Linked DNA regions of Homo sapiens. The protein of the gene in region 2 purifies or fractionates together with the protein of the main gene of each other region. This does not show direct contact. Each region holds a gene or a part of one and is shown on either strand. Other genes may lie near its edges.

Region 1 (3,736 bases), on a different chromosome or scaffold from region 2:
CTGGGCGGCTCATGGAGTCCTAGTCTCCGCATCTATACATCGAGGACGCTCACTTTGCTTCTCCCAGGCTGTTGTGATGCTACGAGCCAGTGCGTAGCCCCAGGCTGTGCCTGGCACCCAGCCTCGGAAGGCCAGCATCCTCCTGTGGCCTGTGCACCCCACATGCGCACACAGTCCACACAGGTCCCCGCCCTTGTGATTAGTGTGCTCTGTGCAGGGCAGGAGCTGGCCTCATGGAACAGCAGCACGAAGGTGCCTTGAGGAGGGAGGGGTGTCAGCTGGGGAGGGCATGCATCCTCCGGGCAGGGGCGGTGGCTGGAGCCTGCCATGTGAGGTGGGAGGAGGCGGCACCTGCGTAGTGTAGCTGGGTGTTTGCTCCTGTCCTTCCGCCTGCACCATCTACAGATGCTCACCTCTCGGATGGCCCCCAGCCCTGCCCAAAGTAGTCGCTGCCTCTGTGAGGCCAAGAAGTCATTTCTGACCAGGAGACTTGACAATGCTGCTAGCAGGGTGGTTTTCTACCTTTAATTGGGGATACAAAAGGCACCTCTCCCAGTACAAGAGGATCAACCAAGAGGTGAGCCCCAGTGCTGTGGTGCCCGGCCAGAAGGAACAGAGGAAGGATGGAGGGCAAGGCAGCGGAGGGGCAGTGGGGCCCCAGCATCCCCTGAAGCCTCACCTGCAGCCTGGGGCTGATGAGATCTCGCCCACTGCGCGCAGAGTTGCAGCTTCGTACCTGGGCCGCCGCAGCTCCTCAGGGGGCCTCCACACCTCCACACCCTACCCTCAGTGGCCAGCCAAAGCCATGGGGCCCCATGCAGCAGAGCAGGGAAGGGACAAGAGGCTCGGCAGAATTTCCACTGTGGCCAGCCTCCAGCCAGGCCTCGACTGGCAGTGTGGGCTCTGAAGGGCTCCTTGGGGCATGGGCCCGGAGCAGGGTATCACTCAGTGAAGGAGAGTCACACTGGGTCAAGCAGCCAGCCAGCCAGCCAGCCTGTCCTGGGGCCTCCACTTCTCAGCAAAGTCTCATGGTCAGCTGGGGTGGGAAAGGAGGCAGAGCAGCCAGATCCCACTGCAGCGCAGACCTGTCCCCCAGTTCATCCCACTGCCTCCACACCCCCAGCCACAGCTGGGGCAGCTCCGTCTTCAAAGAGGAGGAAAAGGGGGTAACAAGCCACCCCCAAAGCAGCCTTAACACCAGAGGAGGGAGGGAGGTCCCAGCCTAAGGGTGTGAGAGCAGTGGGGACCTGGGCTGCAGGGTGCCAGACCCCACACTCATAAGGCAAACAGCATGTCATCATCTTTCTCCTGGGTCTTCTTCCGGGGCGCTGGGCCAGATGGGGGACCCGGGGGCCCCTCAGCTGAGGGGCTGGAGAGGTTGGGCAATCGGTCCGCGGCTTTGGCCCGTTCTTCCAGGAATTTGTCAAATTCTAGAGGAAGGGGAGAGGGTGAGGGTAGGCCCTGAGGCCAGAGCCCTGGGGAAAGGAGAGGGCGGGCAGGGGCGGGGACTACTACCTTCGCTGGTGACCCCCTTAGGCTCTTCCGCATCATTACCCTGGGAAGGTAGAAGGAAAGGAGGCAGAGGTTAGCCGGGCCCCCAGTACGGTCAGCCTGGGGCAGTGGTGCTGCAGCTCGGGCCCCGCTGAACCTCAGCACTGGGTCCCAGCTCAGGCTCTGCACGCCCCCACCACCCAGGTCCCAGGACCTGGACCTGGGCTCCTCCCTGAGCCGTAGGACCTTCCTTGGGTGGCACCTGACTTCCTGAGCCTTGTGTTTTCCTTCTGTAAAATGGGGGCGGGGTGGGGGCTGAAGCTAACTTGGAGGGTTGCTGGGAAGCTGAAATGGGATAACACACAGCACGCCAAGCCCAGCACCTGGTGCCCAGTGGGACCTTGATGAGTGCTGGTTCCTTTCCTTGGAGGGTCACAAGGGGTGGGTGGTCCTCACCCCTGGGGGGGAAAGGCTGACATCCAGAGGCTGAGGGCCATTCATGCTAACACTGCAAACTAGGGAGGGGGTGAGGCTTCTGCCACCAGACAGAAAGCCTGAGTCCTTGGTCTGTGGCTTAGTCCTGGGCAGAAATGGTCTCTTCACCTGCAGAAGGCGGCTTCTGGGCCTGAAGTGCCCATGTGGGCCTTGGTGCCCAGAGACGGGGTGGCAGATGCTGCGGTAGGAGCCCTGGACGGAGAAGCTGAGTCTGGCCCTGCCCCTTCTGCTCCCTGGGAGGGTGGCAGGGCTTGGGGTCCCCATGACTGGCACCCGCCCTCCTCCTCCTGGGTGCTTCCCCTTAGAGGACAGCTGCTTATCGGTCTTCTGATCTGTAAACAGGGTGGTGATGGGTTCCCTCTGCAAGTGGCTGGAGTCTTCTGAGCTACTGCAGGTAAGAGCCTGGCGCTGTTATGCTTCCTCGGTTAGCCTCTCTAGCCTGGCCTGATGTCCCTAAGGTGGGCTGACACCCACTGGGACCTCACCTTGGGAGCAGGCTCTGGGAAGCAGCCGAGAGGCTACTGTGCCCAGGACTTCTCTGGGGGGCGTGCCAAACACAAGGTGGGCAGGTGGCAGGAGATGGGGACTTTAAGTGTGCCCCTCTGCTCTCAGGGTGCTATATGCTATATAAGTCTACCCTGGCCCCATGGGTCATTTCTTGGTGAGAACAACGGGTCCTCCTGCTGTGTGGGTGAGGAGTGGGCCCCAACATACCACGTCAGTGGACAGCCACTGCTCGATGTCCTCCATGAGGCAGGCCTGGGTGACTGGGATCTGGAAGGAAGGGCAGAGGGTAAGGCAGTGCCCTAGGTGACAAGGTGGAAGACGTGCCAGCTCAGCACCCTGCAGCTGGGTGGCCCTGGGCAGCCTCCCACCCCAGCCTCAGCTGCCTAGCTGCCCGGACCCACCACTGGGCCCGCTGTGCCAGGCTGTGGGTGATGGAGGTGCAGAGCCAGGAGACTAAGCAGGGGACCAGGCTCCCAGCAGCTGGAGCAGGGCCAGGGGTCAGAGGGAGCTCCTTCCCCTTGAAGAGAAGAACCCCAGTTCCGACACACCCTTCGGGTAGGATTCTAGGCTGGAGGAGGGGCTTTGGGCAATGGCCTGGGGCAGGGGCTATGCTGCAGGTGCTCAGGAGCATCTGACAAAAGACACGCCAAGCCCAGGGTCAGACCCCAGGCATTTTCTCCAGCCGTGAAGGCTGGGATGGGGACATGGTTAGTGGGCCAGGGGTCCCCAGGTTCCATCCCCTGGTGTCTCTGCAGACGCAGATTTCATGATAGAAGGGGGCATAGCAGGGCCTGAGAGCAGAGGCGCGAAGTTAACCAGACAAGGCCAGGTGGGTAGACCCAGAGGGGCGGTGCTACAGATGGGGACATTTCACTTTCGGCCACAAAGACATGGGCTGTGCCACGATGGCTCCCACACAGGGGCAGGAGTTGGAGGCTTTCCTCTCTAACGGCTTCTGCAGGGGCAGACTCCAGTTGGAGGTCATGGGCACAGACTTCAGAGTGAGAAAGAGCTGGACCTAGCTCACCCCTTAACACAGTGTGACTCTGAGTGGGTTACTTAACTTCTCTGCGCCTGATTTCCCTCGTCCTTAGGGTGAGGCTAGCAGCAGTACTTACCGTCCAGGTGGCTGTGAGGATGAAATGGGATGTCAAAAGCTTAGCACAGGGCCTGGCATGGAGGAGATGCTCAAGAAACCAATAGGCCAGTTCCTATTTACTATTAATCAGTAATGGCACTAATA
Region 2 (2,603 bases):
CGAAAAGCATTTATAAAAAAGATCTTCAAATTGGTAACTTATAACTCCTAATTAAACAGTTAATAAACAAATGGCACTTTGTTTCTAGAATTTTTTAATGACCAAGTGAAAGGCTCATATTTTTCATTTCAGTCCCGTTATTAAAGAAAAAGACCAAATTAAAAAAAAATTTTTTTAAGATAAAATATCTTGCTGTGCCTATGATACAAAGAAATTATTCACAATGGAGATTTTAAAGTGCTTATTTCCTTTATTGTTTAGTATGTTCTTCTGTGCACTTTAAGTGAAGAAAAACTGTATTGACTTTTATTTATTTTTTATTTTTTTGAGACAGTCTCACTCTATAACCCAGGCTTGAGTTCAGTGGCATGATCTCGGCTCACTGCCACCTCTGCCACCCGGGTTCAAGCAATGCTCCTGCCTCAGCCTCCTGAGTAGCTGGGATTACAAGTGCCTGCCACTGTGCCTGACTAATTTTTGTATTTTTAGTAAAGACGGGGTTTCACCATCTTGGCCAGGCTGGTCTTCCACTCCTGACCTCGTGATCCACTCACCTCGGCCTCCCAAAGTGCTGGTATTACAGGCGTGAGCCACCGCTCCTGGCCCACTTTTAAAAATATACAAGATACAGGCAGGCATGGTGGTTCACACCTGTAATCCCAGCACACTGGGAGGCCGAGGCAGGTGGATCACTTGAGGTCAGGAGTTTGAGACCAGCCTGGCCAACGTGACAAAACCCCTTCTCTACTAAAAATACAAAAATTAGCTGGGCATGGTGGTGCATTCCTGTAATCCCAGTCACTTGAGAGGCTGAGGCAGGAGAATAGCTTGAACCCGGGAGGCTGAGGTTGCAGTAGGCCACGATCGTGCCACTGCACCACAGCCTGGGCAACAGACAAGACTTCATCTCAAAAACAAACAGAAAAGAATATATGAGATACTCCCTTAGATCACAACCTTTCTTCACCTATTTTAATTAGCCTTATAATACCAGTGTATTCTTTTCATTTTTCAACAGGGATGTGTATGGGGTGTTGCTTACAGATTGCCAGTAGGAAAGGAAGAAGAAGTAAAAGCATACCTTGACTTCAGAGAAAAAGGAGGCTACAGAACCACAACAGTCATTTTTTATCCAAAAGATCCCACAACAAAACCATTCAGTGTATTGCTATATATTGGAACATGTGATAATCCTGATTATCTTGGTCCTGCACCTCTGGAAGACATTGCTGAACAAATTTTTAATGCAGCTGGTCCAAGTGGAAGAAATACAGAATATCTTTTTGAACTTGCAAATTCTATTAGGAACCTTGTGCCAGAAGAAGCAGATGAGCATCTTTTCGCTTTGGAAAAATTAGTAAAGGAACGTTTAGAAGGGAAACAGAACCTCAATTGCATATAATTTAGTCTTCAGAGAATTAACTTCAGTGCACAATGACAATATGATTTGGAAATACGTTTACTTAAAGATCTTATTTTTAATGTAGTGAGGATATTATTTAAACTTTTATTTTAACTGGAAATGTCCTGAAACACATATTTAAAATATTGGGATACAGTGAAAGAAAAATTCAAATTTTAATAACATAAAGATTTCCTAACTTTATGTTATTGAACACTTACTCACTAGAAGTGAGTTCTTTAGAAAAATACAGTGAAGGACTCAGTTCAGTCTTGTTTTTATCAGAGTGATAATCATCCTGTTTCACATCCCAATACTATTTTGAAATTCTAAACAATTAAACCAAAATTCCAATAAATATAAGGTTATGCCTTCAATATATTCCTATACAATTCTGTAACCATGGTTTAAAATACACAAGCTTAAAATAACATGCTTAGAAATACACAATAATATGAACAGTATTTCAGCCTTAATTGTGAATTTCCTTGTTATTCAAGTATTAAATGAAATCTTTTGAGTTTTTAGCCAAAAATTGGCATTTTTAAAATACGAAAATTTCCTTGGAATTATAATGTACTGTACCTCTTCTTTTTTAAATAAAGGCATTTTACTATATGGAAAATAACTCACTAAAGCATAAATTACATTATACAAATCATGATCACTAATGATGTAGTCTGTCATTCACTTTGTATTAATCTTATACCAAAACTGAAAAAGATGGGCTGATACTACAAATTAATGGCACATATAATGAAAATTTAGTTTTTAAAACAGCTTTTGGAATTCTTTGTCTGTCACTATCTCAATTTGTGTGTGTGTGTGTGTATATACATATATATACATATAAAATTTTTTTTTTCTTTGCAGCCTGCGTCTGGCCATCCCACAGGCTGGAAAGTGTAACCTCTGGCAGAAGCCAAGAACAGGCACCTCCTGGAATTATAATTTTGTTTTGTTTTTTGAGACGGAGTATCGCTCTGTTGCCTAGGCTGGAGTGCAGTGGTGCCAACCTCAGCTCACTGCAGCCTTCACCTCCCAGGTTCAAGGAATTCTCCTGCCTCAGCCTCCCGCGTAGCTGGGATTACAGGCATGTGCCACCACGCCCGGCTAATTTTTGTATTTTTAGTAGAGACGGGGTTTCACCATGTTGGCCAAGCTGGTCTCGATCTCCTGACCTCAGGTGATCCACCAGCCT

Evidence for each region. The genes of interacting proteins can lie anywhere in the genome.
Region 1: the proteins of CHAC2 (region 2) and TOM1 purify together in Homo sapiens (affinity purification with mass spectrometry; one large-scale study listed by BioGRID and IntAct). This does not show direct contact.

The regions. Positions count from the first base shown.
Region 1 is NC_000022.11:35,344,749-35,348,484, reverse strand, and holds the end of TOM1 (target of Myb1 membrane trafficking protein), read right to left. Parts: intron 2,761-3,736; coding exon 2,701-2,760; intron 1,556-2,700; coding exon 1,516-1,555; coding exon of another isoform or gene 1,513-1,515; intron 1,431-1,512; coding exon 1,276-1,430; 3' UTR 512-1,275; downstream 1-511.
Region 2 is NC_000002.12:53,773,124-53,775,726, forward strand, and holds the end of CHAC2 (glutathione-specific gamma-glutamylcyclotransferase 2), read left to right. Parts: intron 1-1,018; coding exon 1,019-1,402; 3' UTR 1,403-2,073; downstream 2,074-2,603. UniProt on the Homo sapiens protein: Catalyzes the cleavage of glutathione into 5-oxo-L-proline and a Cys-Gly dipeptide. Acts specifically on glutathione, but not on other gamma-glutamyl peptides.